Regions from separate parts of the Homo sapiens genome. Here all the other regions are linked to region 1. The links come from fine-mapping of genetic effects on gene expression. A gene starts in region 1. Each other region holds a variant in brackets. All regions are shown on one strand. Distances are from middle to middle.

Evidence for each region.
Region 2: its variant is fine-mapped to the expression of RAP1GDS1 in spinal cord (GTEx, PIP above 0.99).
Region 3: its variant is fine-mapped to the expression of RAP1GDS1 in CD4 T cells (CEDAR, PIP 0.95).
Region 4: its variant is fine-mapped to the expression of RAP1GDS1 in whole blood (INTERVAL, PIP 0.99).

What each region holds. Positions count from the first base shown.
Region 1 is chr4:98,258,491-98,263,764 of GRCh38, forward strand. It overlaps RAP1GDS1 (Rap1 GTPase-GDP dissociation stimulator 1), which reads left to right and starts at 2,894. Exons shown (of 15, transcript NM_001100427.2): 1 at 2,894-3,079. The coding sequence starts at 3,076. RefSeq lists enhancers at 2,135-2,434, 2,186-2,748 and silencers at 2,715-3,014, 3,115-3,184.
Region 2 is chr4:98,357,156-98,362,429 of GRCh38, forward strand. All of the region lies in intron 4 of RAP1GDS1 (Rap1 GTPase-GDP dissociation stimulator 1), which reads left to right. Among named protein-coding and RNA genes, the nearest start is that of RAP1GDS1, 98 kb to the left of the region's middle. The variant G/A (reference allele first, on the strand shown) is at 2,726.
Region 3 is chr4:98,448,065-98,453,338 of GRCh38, forward strand. No RefSeq gene overlaps it. Among named protein-coding and RNA genes, the nearest start is that of RAP1GDS1, 190 kb to the left of the region's middle. The variant G/A (reference allele first, on the strand shown) is at 3,169.
Region 4 is chr4:97,318,104-97,323,377 of GRCh38, forward strand. No RefSeq gene overlaps it. Among named protein-coding and RNA genes, the nearest start is that of STPG2-AS1, 46 kb to the right of the region's middle. The variant A/T (reference allele first, on the strand shown) is at 2,709.

The DNA.
Region 1 (5,274 bases):
AAGGGAGGTGGCATTGTGTGTGCAAGGAGTAGGCAATATACCAGTCTGGAAGTAATTCACTTCTGCATATAACAATCAGTATTGGTTCTCACTATGGTTACAACACCGGTGCATTAGGACTCAGTATATGCACTAAGCCTGAACAATCCTTTGGTTTTAATTGGCAGGAAGGCTAAGGAGATGGCTTGTAGATTGAAGTAGAACAAAAAAGGCACTTTAACTAGTGTCAGATGGGAAATGAGAAAGCCACTTCAGCTGCTTTTGCTAATTTCAACGCTTACATCCAAATAAATGATAGAAGATACTCCATGAAATTATTATAATATGTAATTAGATAAGGAAGTAGGAAAAATAAAGCAAGTTAACTTGACAATCTGGAAGAGATTAATGAGTGTTAAGGAGAGATGAACAAAAAATGATGAGCAGCAATGCAAAGGCCCAGGCTGGTCTTCTGGAGGAGTAATAAAATTAATGTGTAACATGGCCGATGTGGGGGCAGTGAGGGGCCCTGAGGGTGGGGTCTGCATTGGTGTATTATGGGTTGAATTGTGTACCCCTCCCGGATTCTTTTTTTTTATTTTTATTTTTTTTGAGACAGGGTCTTGCTCTGTGGCCCAGGCTGGAGTGCAGTGGTGCAATCTCAGCTCACTGCAACCTCCGCCTCCCGGGTTCAAGCGATTCTCCTGCCTCAGCCTCCCAAGTAGCTGGGATTACAGACACGTGCCACCATGCCCAGCTAATTTATTTATTTTATTTATTTTTTAGTAGAAATAGGGTTTTGCCATGTTGGCCAGGCTGATCTCCAGCTCCTGACTTAAGTGATCTGCCCTCCTGAGCCTCCCAAAGTGTTAGGATTACAGGCGTGAGCCACTGTGCCTGGCCCTGGCTAATTTTTTGTATTTTTAGTTAGAGATGGGGTTTCGTCATGTTGGCCAGGCTGGCCCTATTCATATGTAGAAGTCCTAACCCTTAGTCCCTTAGAATGTGACCTGATTTGGAAATAGGGTCATTGCAGATATAATTAACGTCCATGAGGTCATACTGGAGGATGGTTCGCCCCTAATCCGTTATGACTGCTGTTCTTATTAAAAAGGGAAATTTGAACACACAAGCACACTGGGAGAACAGCCATGTTCAGATTGGAGTTACGCTACCATATGCCAAGAAACTACCAGAAGCTAGGAGAGGCATGGACGAGATCCCTCCCCAGTGCCCTCAGAGGGAGTACAGCCCTGCCTACACCTTGATTTCAAACTTCTGGCCTCCAGAATTGTGAGATAATAATTTGTTGTTTTAAGTCACCCAATTTGTGGTATGTTACGGCAGCCCTAGGGAACTAATGTAGTGCGATTATTTTAAGAGGCAAACAAGAAGAACATCCTAAGAGTGAGGTGCCTGATAGTCTCATGCATCAGAAAAGTCCCATATATTTGACTTCAGCAGTTAAATTGTATTTTCCTGTTTTACCAAACCTTTTTAATTATCGTTTCTTGCTGTAGAAAAATCACATAAAATCTGCTCTTTGCTTAACAAATTACAGGGTCGCTTCTGATTTGTGTGCTCGAAATACTAGTCACCAAGCAGAAACTGATGACTGTGAGAATAGGCGACTAATTAACAAACAAACAAAAAAAGCCCTTTCTCAACATTGGATTGACCGAGTGAAAGTTGACAGGGGAAAGACACCTCGATTCAGCCATCTTTCTCCAACAGGTTGTACTGCTGACTGCACAGTGTCCCCTGAAGGACTCCGGTCGCTGTAGCCTTGGAGAGCGACCAGATTCCTCACCCCACTCAGGAGGAGCCAGGGCAAGATTAGGGTGCAGAGAAATCGGTTTCCTCCAGCCTCCTACCCCAGGGAAGAGGACCGAAGCCAGCCCCGGCCTCACGTGCATGCCCAGTCGGGAGGACGCCCTCAGTGGGAGAGCCCTGCTCAGGTTCTCCCCGAGGCCGAGGTGGTGGTGGGAGCGGGCGGTGGCCCCGGGATCAAAGGACCTCCGCCGGGTTAGCTTTGGCAGTGCCGCAGCCAACCCAGCAGGACGCTTATTTTCAAGCCTGGGGAACGTAGTTCCTCCCGCTTTCACAGCAGGATGGAGCCCGACGGCACCCCGGTTAAAGGGCCTTTCCAGAGCCCTCCGGGGAACGGAAGGCCGCGCTCCTCCGGGAGGGAGAACGACACACTCTTCGAGGAAATCCTGGGGCGGGCGCTCTCCTCGCTGCCGGGACCTTTGTTTCTAAGCTGGCCACAGCTAGAGCAGCCTTAAGTGTCCCAATGACACGCCTGCTATCGAGCGCCCTCCCGGCGGCCCCTCCTCAGCCAGCTGCCCAGCGGGCGTCCTCAGGTGTCCCCAAGAGGCGCAGGCCTAGTCGCCTACACGTCCTTTCCAACTTCGTCAGCTCTGGCTTCCCACCACCCCTCCCGGCTCTGCGGCGGCCCAGCCTCTTCTCCGGTTAATTCCGGCCTGTGCGGCCCGGTCGTCCCGTAAAGAAGGCAAGCCCGGGTTCCGGGTGAGGGGTTGGTGGGTCAGGGTGGGAAAGCAAGGCAGCGGTGAGTCCTCTGCTAGCAGATCGGGCTCAATATCCCCATTCCCTGTTTTCTCCGGGCCCGCCCTCCGCCTCTCAGGCGGCCGCCATGAAGATCCTCTGCCGCGGCTGCAGCCGGTCTGCAAACACACGCCCACCCGCACGCTTAGCCTCGCTCGCCACAGAGGGAGGGGTGGAAAAGGCACTGAGCATGCTCGGTGGGGAGGGCGGGGCGCTCGTGGGCTGCGAGTCGGGGCCGGAGCTCTTCAGGCCGGCTCCCGCGCCTCCGCCGCCCGCCCGCTCGGAGCCGCGCCCGCCGCAGGCTGCGCCCGCCAGTCCCGCCCCGCCCCGCCCCGCCCCGCCCCCCGCCGCTCGTCCCCGCCGCGGCCGCGCCGCCTGCAGCAGCACCAGCTGCTCCTCCCCGGCGGCCGCCCCCCGCGGGTCCCTCCCTGGCTGCGGGAGAGACGGAGGTAGAGGGAGGACACAGAGCCGCGCCGCCCGCACCACAGACCTTCGCCTCGCCCCGCCGGTTCCTCACCCTCGGGGAGCAACATGGGTAAGTCATCCTTCCTCCGCCGTCATCGCCTGACATTTTTTTCTTTCTCGGCGTGCTGCAGGGTGGGAAGCATTTCTCGCGCAAAGTTGCCGGATTTCTCCAGTCCCCGGGTGTGAGACGGTGGCTGTTCCTCCGGGGAGAGTCGGCGCACGCGGAACGCACGCCGGGTGCCGGGGCTGGGAGGGTCCCGAGCGCGGGCTGGGGTGGGGTCGGCCGCGGGCCGGACCGCCGCCCGGCTCCCCGGCACCTCGCAGCCTCGCCTCCCCTCCTCCATTCTTCCTGCCGGTGCCCGGGCACCACGGAGCCTGCCTCGCGGGCTCGCATCTGCAGCTCCATCCCCGTTTCTCCAGAGGCCGCCCGCTTCCTTTTCCCCCGCGTGTACTGAGCTCGAGGCTCGGGTCCGACCACTACCACTTCGTGTAACTTCCTTCTCTGTCAGTGCGACCTTTCCCCGTCGTGGAGACTCCTCATCCCGGGCGGGGAAGTGGAAGCAAGTAGTTTGTGAGGGAGATCTTACAACCTGCACGGAAATTATTTTCCAAGGGGGAGAGCGGACAGCCTCATAGGTTGAAAGGATGACTTGTCAGAGGCCACGAGGAACGTGAGGCAGGATAGAGCCGCTAGCTGTTGAATTAGTGCTGGGTGACTACAGTGTGCAATATTCCCGTGCCCAGCCTATTTTCTGGATTCCTTCGTCCGTCTTCTGTAGCAGGAAACTGCGCCCTGTAACGTTGTTACCGAACTTACATGGTAGTTATTCTTTCCCAGCTTCCTCCTGTCTAATCTGCATAATCTGATTTTAGTTCCTTTGTATTTATAGTTAATCTGAAGAGATTGGTTTGGATGAGAGATTTAAGAGCAAATATGTTTTATAAAACGATATATACATTTGACCTAATTTTTTTACATCATCTATTGCTTAACTGTTACATTCAGTAATCACAGAAACGTCTGATGAATGCTGTCATGTAATTAAGAGCTCAAAGTTTCTTTTAATAGTAGCGACTTGTACTAAGTTCCCCAGTTTGCTTCCACTCCTGTCTGTCATAATTTCCTCTTTTTAAAATTTGCTCCCTTGGCATCTGTCAGCTGGGACTTTTCCCACCCCTTCTGTGCGAGTTATTTAAAGCTTGAGATGAATGTGGTCCTTTCATCTGTTAATACAGTGCTCAACACGTTCAGAGTTAGGTGGTGCAACTCAGAATCTTCAAGAAGTATCTAAACCTGGGAATGGTGTCCATAGAGTTTTCTGGAACAGCAAATGCTTCAGGCTTTGATCCCGACCTTTGGCCATATATCTGGAAGAGGCCAGGGTTGACGGAGGAGGTGGTATGAATCAAAAAAGGTCTAGGGCTCTGAATTTTATTTTCAGTTGTTTTTTCTTTTTAACGTGAGTACTCGATATGCTGAACAAATTTCTGTAAAAATTGGGTGGCCCATTTATGCGTGTCTGCCTTTCTCTTAAAGTAGATTTTTAAATAGGTATTATATCAGATTATTGGACAAGCTGTATATTTCCGTCGAACATACACACGTTTATGTGTGTTCCCTTTGAACATACACAGATAAAATACACTTTGAAATAAAATTCCTTTGAACATACATACACAGATAAGTGTGTGTATGTTCAAAGGAAATATACAGTATGTCCAATAACCCTATCTGATATTGGACTGTAAGTTCAAGTTTGGCTTGCAAAATATATTTTCCCATGTTTCCAGGTGAGCCTTAAACAATCCATTTAACATTTTAGCTTACATGTTAAATCCGTACTTTTTCAGTGGAAAAAATCCAATTCCGTTACAACACTGGTGAATAAAAATACCTAAAAGAAATTATCTACTTAAAAATAATCTTCAAAATCTTGAGTGCTATTGCTTGATTTTTAAAAAGGGCCAAATAGAAACCTATCTCTCATTTTGAAGCCATCTCTGATACTCTTTGGTTAATCTGTCTCTTCATAAGCACTGTTTGTACCTTGTTAGAAGCTTTTTAGCACTTACGTAATCTACCATATAATAAAGTTGTTTATGTGTGTGCTGTGCATTTAATCATGAGTCCCAGAAGATGAAAAGTGTCTTATTATTTTTTGTGTTCCCCACAGTGCTTTTCAAATAGAAATTCAGTAAATCTTTGGCAAATTGTTGAACTTAAAGCCACCTATTATTTTCAACTTTTGAACCTGAAGATATAGT
Region 2 (5,274 bases), 99 kb after region 1:
CTATTTATATCCAGCATTTAAAATAAATGTTTATTTCAGTGATACCAATTAGGTTATTTGATGAGTTATATTAGGTATGTTATTAAAGTCTCATGCAAGTCTTTGTATTTACCCTATTTTCTGTGTTATTCAGTTTTAGAATAAAATAGAATTATCAGTCAGTAAGTAGCGTAAAAATAAGATTCTTCAGTTTTCATCAATCTGTTGTATTTTATGAGTTTATTATTAAAGTACATCATGTGTATAAGAATAAACAACAATATGTTACTGCTACTTTTAGAGATAGTAGTTATGACTATTATCACATGAAAGCATTCCACTATAAAGACATTCTAAATATAGATTGAAGTAGATGTTGTTTTGTAACACTATCATAAGCTCTAAACACAAGCATATGCCATTAAAGAGCTTTTTAAATGGTAGAGAAAATAAAATGAACAAAGGAACACAACCTGAGGACAATTACAGAGCACACACTAAATATGTTTTTTTATCAGAATGAAAATTAATAAGAATATTAACTGTAGCTGTTTTTTAAGAAATTAACCAAATAGTGCATTGCTTAGAAAAGAATTTGTTTACAAATTAATATAATTATAAATGTATAAAATTTTAATATAACCCCTAGAAAGTTGGTATTGCAAATGAATGTGATTTCCAGCTCCACCATTCACTAAGTTGTCATTTAATTTTTCTGATTTTAATTTCCTCCTTGGTAAAGTAAGCTTGTGTGGATTAAGTATGTTTATATAAAAAGTGTGTGTGACTCAGTGTAATACATACAATAACATACAAAAGGTATTTCCATAAAGATATAAAAGCCAGAAGCCATATAAAGAGAGGCAAAGATAAATCTGGTGGGAAGCAGGGATAATGTGCTTAACTGTGTATAAGCACTGATTTCACTTGAGCTTCTTGGCAGCCTATGTGAAAAAACAACTTGATATGCCTTGTAATTTTTATTTTATGATAAAAAGGAATATTTTAGTTCTTTAATCAAACAACTTTTGAGACAAAATAGTAGGAGGGACTTATCAGGATGTCATTAATTCCCTAGATGATTCTGTGCACATACCTAGTTACAATATGTAAGGATATTTACTGGCATTATAGTGTACCTAGTGACGGTTCTACAAAAGTTGCCCAGATGTTTTCCATGTGATTGTTTCTTGTACTAATCTTCAACAGAATCTGGGAAATAATACTGAGGACTTTACAGAAGGTAGTTTTATTTGGGTAGTATATCCCGAGTGTGTTGTTTTTTGGTGGTTAAACTTGCTTAAAGGATTCAGTTTAAAAATTTGAAAAAGTTTTGACTTGAATATATTTCCTAGTTTAGTTTAAAACCAGAATACAATTCTGGTTTCCATTCATTGTACTTTATCCTTTTCTCTGTGTTGTGTGATATATCCAAGTTCTATTTCTTGAGACCAAAAACCATGTTTATCTCTGATTTTTGAGCCCATTATCAGTTTGATGGAAACCTGACTAGCATGAAAGTGAGTATTTTAAAATACCACTTTAGTTGTGGTACACAAATCTGTACATATGTTAGAATTGCTTAGAACCATACATGCCCATACACATACACTAATGCATGTAAAAACTGATGAAATATGAATAAGGTCTGACATTGTACCAATGTCAGTGTCCTGGTTATGCTATTGTGTAGTAGAGTTATGCAATGTTACCATTGGAGGAGGCTGGATAAAGGGTACATGAGACCTTTCTGTGCTTTTTTTTTTTAAATAACTTCTTGTGAGCCTCTAATTACTTCTAAATAAAAAGTTTTAAAACCTCACCTATCCAGAAAGCATATATATTCTCTTCCCTATGGGAAATGACCTTGTTGTTTCAGCAGTACCTGAGGTGGGAGGTGGGGGCAGCAGGCATACACATAAAATTTTACAGCATAGCTCACAGCAGTAATTTTAATGAGTTTGTGCAATTAATGTGAAAGACAAAAATGCCTGTAATTTTTTCTCCCTCCAAATTGGACTTTTATGGAAAAAAATCAACAAAAACCTAACAGCCCTAAAATAAGATTTACGGAGTGGGAATTCGTATTTGTTGGGTTAGGACCTAGGGACAAAAGCAGAGTAAATTTCCTAGAAAGGGAATAACTGATAGGGAAATATTATAGACCAAAAAAAGTGAAATTATGAACTCAAGTAAACAGGTTGATATTAAAATGAGAAAGGACATTTCTGCCATAGAGAATAAAAGACAGAAGATAAATGAAAGTATAAAAAAACCTTTAAGTAGTAAAGAGGGCACTCAAAAGTGTATTTCTGGGTATAGTTCTGTCTTCCCAGTAAGGTAGATGTCAGGCTCATCTGTTAATAAAAGTCAACACCAAAATGATGGTAGGAAGTTTGTGGTTTTGGGGGAAAGTTCAAAATTGGGGCTGTAGGACATGTAAATCATGAAGATACGATTTTTTAAAATAGCCAAATAGTAATATAGGTATGCTATGGTAGAGATCTTGATTGTGCATCCATTAATGTATAGTGTGCTTAAAATGTCTATAGGCTAAGGAATTATTTTGACTTTGATATGTGGACAGGAAGGAGCCTCTGAAAGTAACTTGAAGAAATTGATATTTTCAGTTTTGTAGCATCATATAGTCTAATTGGAATGGACAGAGATGTGAGGCAGAGATATCAGGAAGCCATTACAGGAGGCCGGGTGTGGTGTGGTAAATAGTGACTGCGGCAGAGAGAAC[G/A]AAATTATATTGTAAAGTGAGAGACAGTACTCAGATAGTTTATTATCAGTTTGGCTGGTTTTTGCGTAGCACTGCACCAGGTTTATTTAAGCAATGTAAAGTACTCTATCTCTTCAGATAGTTTACACTTTGAGAAACTATGATCTTTCCATTTTTGTACTTGGTATTAAATTTAAATCCCTCTTTTATTAAATGGTGTTTGGAAATCCAAGATTCTATAAAGTTTACCTTAAAATTGTAGGACAAAGAACACATATTACTGCTTTTTTCCCCATGCTTGATTACTTTCCAAATACTATGTTATAAAAAGCTAATGTCTTAGGGAAGACATGAAATAGTAATTTCGAGTAATTGTTCTTAATTTTATAGATACGAAAGTAGAGGCAACCTGTGAGAGAGTATTGCACGTGGCAAAAATATTAGATGATTTTTCTTGGGTTCAATAAGAAGTCATATATGGTTGCCTTCCCCCCCAACCCCACCCCCATTCTCTGAGTCAGAAGTCTGAATGGCTTTAGAACTTTCCTTTCCTCATTAAGAGGACTTAGGTAGGGTGGGAAAAGTCTAATTATAGAGGCCTACTTGGGGGTTTAAAAACATTTTTTGTCTAAATCTGTTTTTTCCCCTTACCTTTACCACTCTCATTTCACCTGTTAAAGTCAAAGTTTAGATATGTGAAACATAAGATTTCCAGTCTGCTTATTGAAACCCTGTCAACACATATTATCCTCTGCTCTTTTTAATAGGGTTTTGTTTACATTTTTAAAATTTTCTTATTTGTAACCAAGTTGAAGTACTGAGAACTTTCTCAACTTTTAATCAGCCTTTTCCTTGCTACAAGTAGGGTGCATTTTCCTTGGCGGTGAGGAAATATGAAAAATAAATGCTACGTAAAAGTGAATAATTCAGGGCCAGGCATAGTGGCTCACGCTTGTAATCCCATCATTTTGGGAGGGCGAGGCAGGTGGATCACTTGAGGTCAGGAGTTCAAGAGCAGTCTGGTCAACATGGTGAAACCCCATCTCTACTTTTTAAAAAGAAAACAAAACAAAACAAAACTAGCCAGGCATGGTGGCATATACCTGTAATTCCAGCTTTGGGAGGCTGGGGCATGAGAATTGCTTGAACCCAGGAGGCAGTGATTTAAGATCACAGCACTGTACTCCAGCCTAGGTGACGGAGTGAGACTCTGTCTCAAAAAAAAAAAAAAAAAGAGTGAATAATTTACATTTTTCCTGCTGAGTAAAATGTTTTTACCCGTTGAGAAACTATGCTGTCATCAGTTCAGATTAAATTCTAAATAACTATATATGCATTTGCTCTCACACACACACATATATATATACATATATATATAGTCTAGCATAATTTAAGTATGAAATAGTTTGGTACAAAAACACCTTTTATATTTAAAATATTTATAAAACGTTTTGATCTTGAACAATTGGAGTAATAAATTGGAACAATAAATTACATACATTATTATCTAAATGCTATGTAAAAGTAACTTTTATGGAAATAATTGAGTTAAATGACTTTATAATTTGTGTATAAAGATATTCAGTCTTTTGCTAATAAAATGATACAGAAATATAAAAATATAGGGAGTAAAGAAAGCTTTAGTAATTTCTTTAGGAAATGTATTGCCATTTATGGAGCCTTTATTAGATAAAGGGTTTTTGAAAAAGTAGAATTATTGAACAATTTTAACTAATGTGAGAAATCTGTTGGACAACAGAAATTAATACTAGTATCAGCAGGCACACCAAAAACTGTGTCCATCAAATGCTGGGCCATAACCTCATTTTATGCTGTGCCCTTGGTACTAGTGCTTTGGGAAATGAAAGATTTAATTCATTTACTTTTCCTGATCTGGCATTACAAGTGTAAATGTATATACACCTTGAAATTTTCCCACCTAAATGCAGATTTTTAAACCTGAATATAATGTCACAAAATTGCAAATTGCATGCTTCTCTTTTGATATGTGTGCACTTAACAGTCATGGTGGCTTTTTCTTCATGACTCATTTTTGTGATTTTACTTATGTAATATGTTATAGCTTTTGCTTTTATATCTAGTCTTTCAGGGATTTTGCCTGAATCTGGAAGGTGAATAAATTGCGTTTTGAGTTTTAGAAACGATATTCATGAGCTTTTTTATTTGAATGCTGAAAACATTCGATTATGTCTAAGGTACATAATAGAAATTCACTGTTGGCAAAATTATAGGGGGAAATGTAAGCATTAGAATTTAATTTTCTTTCCTAGTAGACTTCATAAATACATTTTAACTTTATCTTGAAAAACAATGTAGGGTCTGCATGTGGTGGCTCACAGCTGTGATCCTAACATTTTCAGAGGCTAAGGTGAGAGGATCACTTGAGCCCAGGAGTGCAAGATTAGCCTGGGCGTCATAGCAAGATCGCATCTCTACAAAAAATAAATTTAGCTGTGCATGATGGAGCACTTCTGTAGTCCTGCTACTCAGGAGGCTGAGGTAGGATGACACGAGCCTGGGAGTTCAAGGCTGCAGGGAGACATGATTGT
Region 3 (5,274 bases), 190 kb after region 1:
CCTGTGAACCACCACTCTGATTTCTTCCAAGCTGATCAACACTCTCCAGGCACCACTCACATGGAGAGGGGAGGGAAGGAGTGGAGGGCCTCTTCTTCCACAAGAGTCATCATTAAACACTCTTCATGCTCTTCATGATTCTATCACCTGGCCAATCTGTTTCTTCCTCTATAGACTAGGGATGGCAAACAAACTAGGGGCCCTCACACATGTTGTTTGGGCCACATGGTTGTTGTTTTTTGTTTTGTTTTGTTTTGAGATGGAGTCTTGTTCTGTCACCCAGGCTGGAGTGCAGTGGTGCCATCTCAGCTTGCTGCAAGCTCTGCTTCCCGGGTTCACGCCATTCTCCTGCCTCAGCCTCCTGAGTAGCTGGGACTACAGGTGCCCGCCACCACGCCCAGCTAATTTTTTGTATTTTTAGTAGAGACATGGTTTCACCGTGTTAGCCAGGATGGTCTCAATCTCCTGACCTTGTGATCCGCCCGCCTCAGCCTCCCAAAGTGCTGGGATTACAGGCGTGAGTCACCGCGTCCGGCCTGGTATTTTTTAAAAAAAAAAAAAAGGAAGAAGAAAAGGAGAAAAAATGAATAGCTTTAAACATTTAAAATGTAAGTGATTTTGCATAAAAATCCATTTCTCTGGCTTTTCTTTTAAAATGAGGAGATCTGGAAACCAGGGACTCTACATTTCAGGAGAAGAGCATGTGGGTGGGGCCCCCTTTGGACAGGATATGTCTCTCTACTGGATTAGATCCCCACCTGGCCATTCACCTAAACTGCATAGCCCCTGGAAGCCTATGCATCTGTGACCCTGTGGATGGAGGCTGTCTGCTTCCAGAGCAGGAGAAAGGGAAATGGATTTTTAGGGACAGAGAACAGCACTATGGGAAAGGCCATGTTTAAGGAAGATCCAAATATTTGACCCAAGGTCATTTATATGACCTGTGCAAACTTGCACTGCCTTTAGTCCCCCAGAGAAGACTTGCCATCCTGAGAGTCAGTGACAGCTGCAGTCTGACAAGTGGCAGGAACATGAAAACAGCTGCAAGCCATGCCCAAGCCTGCACTCACCACATCCTGCTGATAGGAGGGAGCTGGTGCTGGCCCTCCTGTTCCCTCTCCTCTCACAGGGCTGGCAGCAGCTTGTGGGACTGCAGGGATTTAGAAAGTCCCTTAGCTGGATCAGGAATATAGCCCTTCTCCTCAGGCCAAAGACATCTTCATCATCATCTTTATCCCATGAGTCAGGGGATCTTATATAATATGGAAGCCTGCTCACCCAGGCTTATTGCGCTCTGCTTTTGGAGGCCTCCCTTTGGAGAATTCCTAACACAGACTCTACCTGCCAACCTCCCAGGCTAACCTGATCAACCACAATTTCCTCTTTATAGCCAACCCCACAGAAATGAGCCTCCTCATTTTAAAGGACTCATATAATTAGAAGTTCTGCTCCATTCCAGCCAAGATTCCAGTGAAAAGAAACATTCTGCTCCTAAATGTTTCAACGACAGCATGTACCGAAGAACAGCATGTTCCCTATATACCCCAGAGTGAGTAAGCCCCAGTGGGCTCAAAGAAAGACCAGATAATTCTCCTTGCCTTAAGCTAACAAGGGTTACATAGACCGGGAGCTAGAGCATGGCAATGGCAGAGGAATAGTTGCCAAACCTTGCGTTTGCTCTGGATGGCCAACCCATAGCCAAAAACATGCCAGAACTCTTACATCCCTACCATATTTGAAAAAAGAATATAGTATCAATAAGTGTTCAAAAAATGTCTTTGTGGCAAATATGAATTATTTCTTCAATATCCAGCTCTCCTTATTAACAGAACCCCGATTTTGTTCAGAGACTAGTACGTCAAGCTTCAAATAGTCCCATTTTCCAGCTTTCCAAGCTAGTGCTACAGTTCCATAGAAATCCCCAGATATGGCATCCTTTAGTAAATAGAAAGGAAAAGACCTGCTGGGCAAATGCTGTTTTGTCCCTTCACCTTTTCCTTTTTTTCCCCTCCTTCTTGCCTCAAATATGCAGCCCTTCAGCAACGATTAGGTAGAAACCTGAGGATGAAGGCCTGTACCTTAAGGACAGTGGAACAGAAAGGTACAAAGAGCCTGGGTCCACAGGAGCATCAATAAGCTGGAGTAGCGGCCCTATGCTGAGAACCCTCATGCTGATGGCAGGAGACACACACCTGACGTTGAAATCCCTCAGGCAGGGTTTTCCATTATTTCAAATGGAATGAAATCTTGATTCATGAAGCTAGTCGTTAATGTATCAAAATCTCCCCTAGGACAATTTGTTCTGCTTAAAGGCCATGGCCACAGACCTCATGACAACAGAATCCAAAGGATTTAAACAACTGGGGCTACCAGTTTTAACCCTCAAAGTTCAAAAATACACCAAAAAGCCTGACTCTCTAACTCAACAGCCTTCCTCACTACCCAAAGATTTACTAAACACTTACTATGTCAGGCACTGTGTTGGAAGAAGATAAACATGAACCTGATTATTGAGCAAACAAGTAAGGGCTTTAACCAAGGCATGAACAGAGTTATGGGGTTCTGTAGAGGTGACTCTGGGTGCTCTGGGCATCTTGGGGCAGAGGGTACATAGGAAGGAAGGGTGGGAGCAAAAGAAAAGGCTAGGAAAATAGAGCAGAAGAGATGGCAGGAGCAGGGAGTAGACATTAGCCATTTTAACTTTGTATTATATAACGGAAAAACCAAGGTTTCTACATAAAAGATGGGTATATTTGCTTTATGTTTTGTTCTAGAATCAGAATTATTGCTAATGGGGGTGGGGCAGGCTAGCAGAAAGGAAATTAATAGGTAATTGTGATGAATTCCTGATGTTGAGAGACAATTCTCGATGGGTATCTTGTATTTCCATACCTCTGTGAAAGACAGCTTCAGCTTTTTCTTTTTAACTACCTTTTCAAGGATCTTTATATGCCAAATAGCCTTGTAAGATAGAGACAGTGTCTCCCTGGGACAGGCAGATTTATTTTTACTGTACAGAAATCAAGATAAGGTCTCCCTCGGGGGCAAAGTTTGGTCAGGATCACTTGCAGGCCCCTTTATGAGACTGGGGTTTCCTAAACTCAGTTCCTTCGCTGGGGCATAAACCTGCTGTGTGTGAAGTATCCATCTGGGCCACTGTTCCCTGTC[G/A]GACTTGGGAAGCAAGAGAAACTACTGCAAACATGAGATTCATTTTACCAGGGGTGCATGCATAATAAAGTCCTTTCAGTCTGACCCAGGAGTCTCAGGCCTTCTCTCAGCATCTATGTACCTGTGGCAGGCTAACTTGTTAGCTTGCAAGGAGGGTAAAATCTCAAACACTTCACAATTGTTGATGCCTAAACTAGGATTTTTAGAGAGGAAGGGTCTGGGATACTTTTATGGAGCTAGAGATTGGAAAAGAAGATCATTCTGAAGTATCTGAGTTGGGTGACTGGGCAGAAGATGGTGGTGATGTTAACTAAAAGGAGGAACACAGAAAGGAAAGTGGGTTCCTGTAAAATGAGTTGGCTTTGACACATTTGGTTGGAGATGCCTAGAGGATCTTGAGGAGGAGATAGGCAAGTGGACACGTTCTTATTCCAGCTGAGCCATGAGTACAGGGGTTGCTCCATAAACAAACTGAGCCCCGCAGGCCTCAGTGCTCCCTTTGGCACTTCCTAAACTCACACATCATTGTGTTGCCTCAGGGTCCCCAGGAAACACCAACAATAGATCCATTTTTTTAAAAAGTTTGCTTAAATTAGTCAGACATGGTGGTGTGTGCCTGTAGTCGCAGCTATATGAAAGGTTGAGGTGGGAGGATTGTTTGAGCCTGAAAGGCAGAGGTTGCAGTGAGCCGTGGTCATGCCACTGTACTCCAGACTGGGTGACAGAGCAAGACCCTGTCTAAAAAAAAAAAAAAGTGTGCTTTTCCCAACACTTAGGGAATCAAATCCCTGGAACTGGGGCCTGGGTATCTGAATTTTTTTAAAGCTCCAAAGGTGATTCTGATCTGCAGCCAGAGTAGAAAAACGCCAGCTAGAACCAAGGGCAATGAAATGATACTTTGCTTAAAGTCCTCAGAGTGTGGCCTGGCCAACAAGAGTCCTCACCTTGTTTGGTCAAGTAGGTAGCCATTTCCTGAATTGATACCCCAGGATTTTTGTTCAACGTCCATCCTTTTTGAGGCCACTGAGTTCTGACTCAGAGACTAATAATCACTTGCCAAGTAAAGCACCATACTTAAAGAGATCAGATATCCTGAGCCACCCAGCTCCCAGATGTTGCTGTAAAGGAGACATTATATCCCAGGATGGTTCAGAGATTTTTCTGCTCCCCTAAACTTTCTGGAATCCTGCCTGACACATCCTCTGGATTAATCATCAGGATACCCTCATGCCCAGCATATGGGGCATAGCCCCGGACACAACCATCCCCTACCCCCATCATCCTTATGAAAAGCATGTTCTCTCAGACATCCAAAGTCTTTTGCTGATAGTCTGAGACTTTGAGCTCTTAGAGAAGGCAGAGGGGATGGTCGTGTGCTTGGTTAGCTCATAGCCTTTCTCCTTAGCTTTCCAAGTGCCCATGTGTACCTCATAGCCCTTCCATGTGCTGGCATGACTTCCTCCTATCTTGAAAAGGCTTTTCTCTCCATATGATCATGTCACCAGCAAACAGCAACAGTGTGGCTTCCTCTTTACCAATTTGGATGCCCTTTATTTCTTTCTCTTGCCTAATTGCTCTGGCTAGGATTTCTAGCACTATGTTGAATAGAAGTACTGGAAGTAGGCATCCTTGTCTTGTCCCAGTTCTCAGGGGGAATGCTTTCAACTTCTTCCCATTCAGTATAATGTTGACTGTGGGTTTGTCAGGATGGCTTTTATTACCTTAAGGTATTTCCCTTCTATGCCAATTTTGCTGAGGGTTTTAATCATAAAGGATGCTGGATTTTGTCAAATGCTTCTTCTGCATCTATTGAGATGATCATGTGATTTTTGTTTTTAATTCTGTTTATGTGGTGTATCACACTTTTTGACTTGCATATGTTAAGTATGCAGGGATGCAGAATACATCCCTGGTATGAAAACCACTTGATCATGTTGGATTATCTTTCTGATATGCTGTTGAATTTGGTTAGCTAGTATTTTCTTGAGGATTTTTACATCTACGTTTATCAGGGATATTGGTCTGTAGTTTCCTTTTTTGTTATGTCCTTTCCTGGTTTTGGTATTGGGGTGATACTGGCTTCACAGAATGACCTAGGGAGGATTC
Region 4 (5,274 bases), 940 kb before region 1:
GACAGCCAAAGAAAGGAAAGTAATACCCAACTGAAGGAGGATAGAGAGGAATTATTTGAAATACAGATTCTTTCAGCAAAGGCTCCTTCTTCAAAGCTTTTTGGAAAAAAATGTAATGCAAAAAAAAAATAAAAGTATGAAGTATAAGGATAAGTAAAAAAATTTAAAAGCATATTTTGAAATACATACGTGATCATAGGAGTTCATTGTGGACTGTGAATGGGTCCATATTTAGTGGCATCTGCCTTTAACTAGGAATAAGGCCAAAATCAGTCACAGAGTTGGTCTGCTCCATTTGTCTCGGAGATCACTAGATATATTTCTAGCACTTCTTTTTCTCCTAAGAGTGTAGCATTTATAGTATCTATTCAAAGAGAACTCACAAGTACAGCATTTCATGAGCTCTTGATAAGCTGTCTGAATCATGACCATTGTGCCACGGATTTCCTCAAGCCCTTTTCTTTATTAAGGTTCATGAACAGACTGTGAATTCCTGATTTGCCTTTGTTGTGTCTCCTCTGTCCAGTTTCTACAGGGTCCTATTTGAGACTAGTTTGCTTAGAGCTCATAATGAGCTCTCTAATGTTGATTCATTTTGGGGTCTCATATTCTTCAGTATTCTTATATCTTTTTCTGAGCATTCAGAATAAAGAGAGCTAGTATTAATGGAAAACACACTATGTGTAGTAACATCATTTTCTCACTTTAACCTTCCAGTACTTGTGAGATAGAGAGATACTTTTAATTAGTTAATCCTTTCCTGGCTTCAACTCCTACTAGTCTAGACTTGGTATTCTATCACTTAAACTACTCTCCCAACCATCACTTTGACACCCCTGTGCAAATATTCTTTGACAAAAATATCTAGGTGAAATCCAAACTTCAGAATAATGTAATCATCTGCTTTATCTATTATTTCACTCTATAGCTTATCCCATGCTATGATTTGAATACTTGTCCCCTACAAAACTCATGTTGAAATTTAATCCCCATTGTGGCAGTATTGAGACGAAGGACCTTTAAGAAGTGATAGGGTCATGAGGGCTCTGCCCTCATAAATAGATTAATCTTTTTTATAGATTAATGGATAAAGGATTAAAAGATTAATGGGTTGCCATGAGGGTGGAACTGGTGGCTTTCTAAGAAGAGGACAAGAAACATGAACTAGCAAGCTCAGCCCCCTTACCATGCGATGCCCTGTGCTGCCTTGGAACCCTACAAGGAGCCCCACCAGCAAGAAGGCCCTCACCAAATGTGGGCTTTGACCTTGGATTTCTCAACCTCCATAACTGTAAGAAATAAATTCCTTTTCTTTATAAATTATCCAGTTTCAGTTATTCTTTTAAAAGCAACAGAAAACAGACTAATAAATCCCACATATAGTCTGTTCAAACAATGCCTCTTCAAATTTGCCAAAGATATGCTTCTCTCTTCAACATAGAAACATTCTAGGCTGGGCGCAGTGGCTCACACCTATAATCCCAGCACTTTGGGAGGCCGAGAAAGGCAGATCACCTGAGGTCAGGAGTTCGAGACCAGCCTGACCAACATGGAGAAACCCTGTCTCTACTAAAAATACAAGATTAGCTGGGCTTGGTTGTGCATGCCTGTAATCCCAGCTACTCAGGAGGCTGAGGCAGGAGAATCACTTGAACCCAGGAGGCGGAGGTTGCAGTGAGCCGAGATCATGCCATTGCACTCCACCCTGGGGAACGCGAGTGAAACGCCATCTCAAAATAATAATAATAATAAAGAAATAAAAATAAAATAAAACATTCTACAGTCTCTGCCATTTTTAATGAATCTTCTTTGATCTCCTCTAGCCATCATCCAGTCTCTTCTTTCCTTAAAAGCCTATATTTCAGAAAGAGTGCTATACACTCTGTCTCCAGAGCCATTTAATTAGCCCACTGAAATCTGATTTCTCTACTTCACTTTCAAAGTTACTATAGCTAACATCATCTATTATTTCCCAGTTGCTAAATCCAAAGGAGAGTTTTTATTCCTTACCTCGATTGGCCTCCCTATAACTGTAAAAATATCTCTTCTCCTTTGGTTTCCAAGATTCACTCTCTCCTTGCTTTCCCATCTATCTTAGTTTCCTCTTCTAGGATGTTCTTTCTGCCCTCATAGCTTGAATTCTGATGTTTCCTCAAATCAATCCTTGACTTTTTTCTCTCCTTATGCTAACCACTTCTTGAGATCTCCTATTTCACCTAATGGCATCCATATCTATGATTGAAGTGTGGCCTCTTTTTTGAGCTCCAGACATAGGTTTTAAACTTGAATTACAGGCCCAGGAAATCTCTTTGTAGATAACACATAGTCCCCCTTTACTCTCCCCTCTACATACGAATATGTTCATTCTTTATTATTCACGCACACACATTATTATCCATAGACGAGCTAGGCCAGATTATAAAGTCTCGTAATAGCTGAAAGATTAGAGGTGGTAACGATTTGACCTTGGCACAAGTGTACTTTTCTCTGGTCTATTCATGAAGAGACAATAGGAAGTACAAAGGATAAAAGTGGTGAACATGACGGTCTATTTCTTCCCTTCTTTCATGAGAAGGAGTGCTGAAAATTTGGTGTTCTTGACCACCCATAGAGAGGAACAAGTATGCCAAGTCAGAGAATAACAGGACTATGGGCCCAAACTCCTGGCCTCAAGTGATCCTCTTGCCTCAACCTCCTGAGTAACTGGG[A/T]TTATAGGAAGAACACACCATGCCTGGCTCAAACTATGGAATCACTAGCTCTTTATCTGTTGCTACCTTATCACTCTGAAACAATAGACCATATAAGGCTACTGTGTTACCTGGGCCTCGAGGCCTTGACATTCTTTTTTGTTTGTTTGTTTGTTTTTTTGAGACAGAGTCTCACTCTGTCGCCCAGACTGGAGTGCAGTGGCATGATCTCGGCTCACTGCAAGCTCTGCCTCCCGGGTTCATGCCATTCTCCTGCCTCAGCCTCCTGAGTAGCTGGGACTACAGGTGCCCGCCACCACGCCCGGCTAATTTTTTTGTTGTATTTTTAGTAGAGACGGGGTTTCACTGTGTTAGCCAGGATGGTCTCGATCTCCTGACCTCGTGATCCGCCTGCCTCGGCCTCCCAAAGTGCTGGGATTACAGGCTTGAGCCACCGCTTCCGGCCGAGGCCTTGACATTCTTACTGTGCCAGCACTTGAGCAATCCTTCTTGATCTATACTTCTGCTACCAAGCCCTATGAGTTTTCTATTCATGTCCTTTTAGGAGCTATTTGTGGGCAATCCTAATGATGTCCCACCACAATACAGCAGTTACCCAAGTCAGAAAATTTGAAATAGTCCTTGCTTTTATACTCTTTTCCACCTCCTATACCAAACAAATTATTACCTTCCACCACTTCTTCCCATTAAATACCTTTTACTTACCCACTCCTCTCTGTTTCCAGTGTTATTTCCACTATCATCTCTCAGATGAAATATTGCAAAAGTCTCCAGTGTGGCCTCTAACCTCAAACTCTGTGCTCTCTCCAGTTCATTCTGCATTCTACTGTCAGCAGGAACATCCTAAAACATAAATATGATGCTGCCTCACTCCCTTTCAAAAATTATTTAATGACTCCTCAGCACCTTCAGGATAAACTCCAAGTTTATCCAACATAAGCTGGGGCCTACTGAGTTTTGATATCTCATTTACCATTTCTTCTCCTTCTTCAGAAGATTTCTAATTCCTCAAGCATGCATTATGTCCTTAAGCCCCCATGCCTTCTAAAATGTGTAGAATGCTGTCTTCCTATCTTCTCCATGATGTTTATGATATTTACTAGTCTGCCAAAACTCTATTCGGGTCTACCCACATACTCTCTCTGCAAATCTTATAACTGCCATTTTCAGAGCACATTCAGACTCCAATCATTTCTTTACCACCTCTTCTCCTATCACCTGAGTTCAAGTCACCATGACTTTTCAAATAGATTACTACAATATTCATCAAATTAGTCTGTTGACTTTTACCCTTGCTTACCCCATGGTATTTTTCCTCCCATAGTAGCCAGAAAGAGTCTTGAAATCCTACGTCAGATCATATTACTTCCCTGTTTATAACCCATCAATGGACTCAGAGGCAAAGCCAAATTCTTATAATGACCTACACAGCACATATTATCTGGTCTCCAATTACCTCTCTGGTCTCATGTCACATGTTTCACATGCTCTCTCACATTATTTAAGCAACACTGGCACCTGCTATTCCAACAACACATTTCTATCTTAGGATGTATTCCCTCTGTCCATAACTCCACCTCCAGATTACATACACACAACACATATGTACATATCTGATGTATAGATATGTATATATACATTCCTAGAATACTGTCATGGACATAAAATTTCTTCTGTAGCCTATTAGCATCTCTAGCTGGGCCTAAGAATTAAACTAACATATGACAGATTATCAGGAGAAAAGCATACACATTTTATTTAGTAAGTTTTCTATGTGCATGGGAGCCTTCAGAAGGAAAATGAAGACCTAAAGAAGCATTTAGAGCTGAAAGCTTGTATACTAGATTGGACAAAGAGCAGTAAATTGTGAAAATATGGCAAGACAAGGGGCTTGGGCTCGGCCAGTTAACTGTGGAAAAATGACTAGGAAGATAAGAGTTAGTTTGACAAGGTTAGTTTGTACAGATTTCTCTCAGCCTTGCCTCCTCATCTCTGGTGACAAGAATGTCTTCCTTCCTTCCCATGTGAAGAGCATCCTTTACATGGAAGTTTAATCTCCTGCTTTTAGGAATAAAAAGCAGGTCAAGGTGCCCTTGTTGCATCTGCTGTTTTTCAAGTGCCTTTAACTCAAAATAATCAATATGCCAAGATGTCATATTTTGGGGTGGCCTGTTTTCAACCCCTTACAATATATATAACTATACAACCACATGTACACAAAGATATAGACACACAGATATACTGATATGGGTAATTGTCTCATTCCAGTCAAATGCCACTATATGAAAGATATCTCACCTGACAACCCCAACTAAAAGAGCAATGTCTCATCAATATTCTCCATCTTCTTAGCCTACTTTGTTTTTTTCTCAGAGCATCACACAGTCTGTTCTTTATTTTACTGTTTCTGTTTGATTACAATAGAATGTAATCTCCATAAAAATAGATCTTGACTGTTGTATTCATTGGTGTATCCCTGAAACAGGATAATGAATAAATGAATGAACAGATAAATGAATAAATGGAGAGATTAATCAATTATCTCCCATTTTGTTTTCCTCTCCAC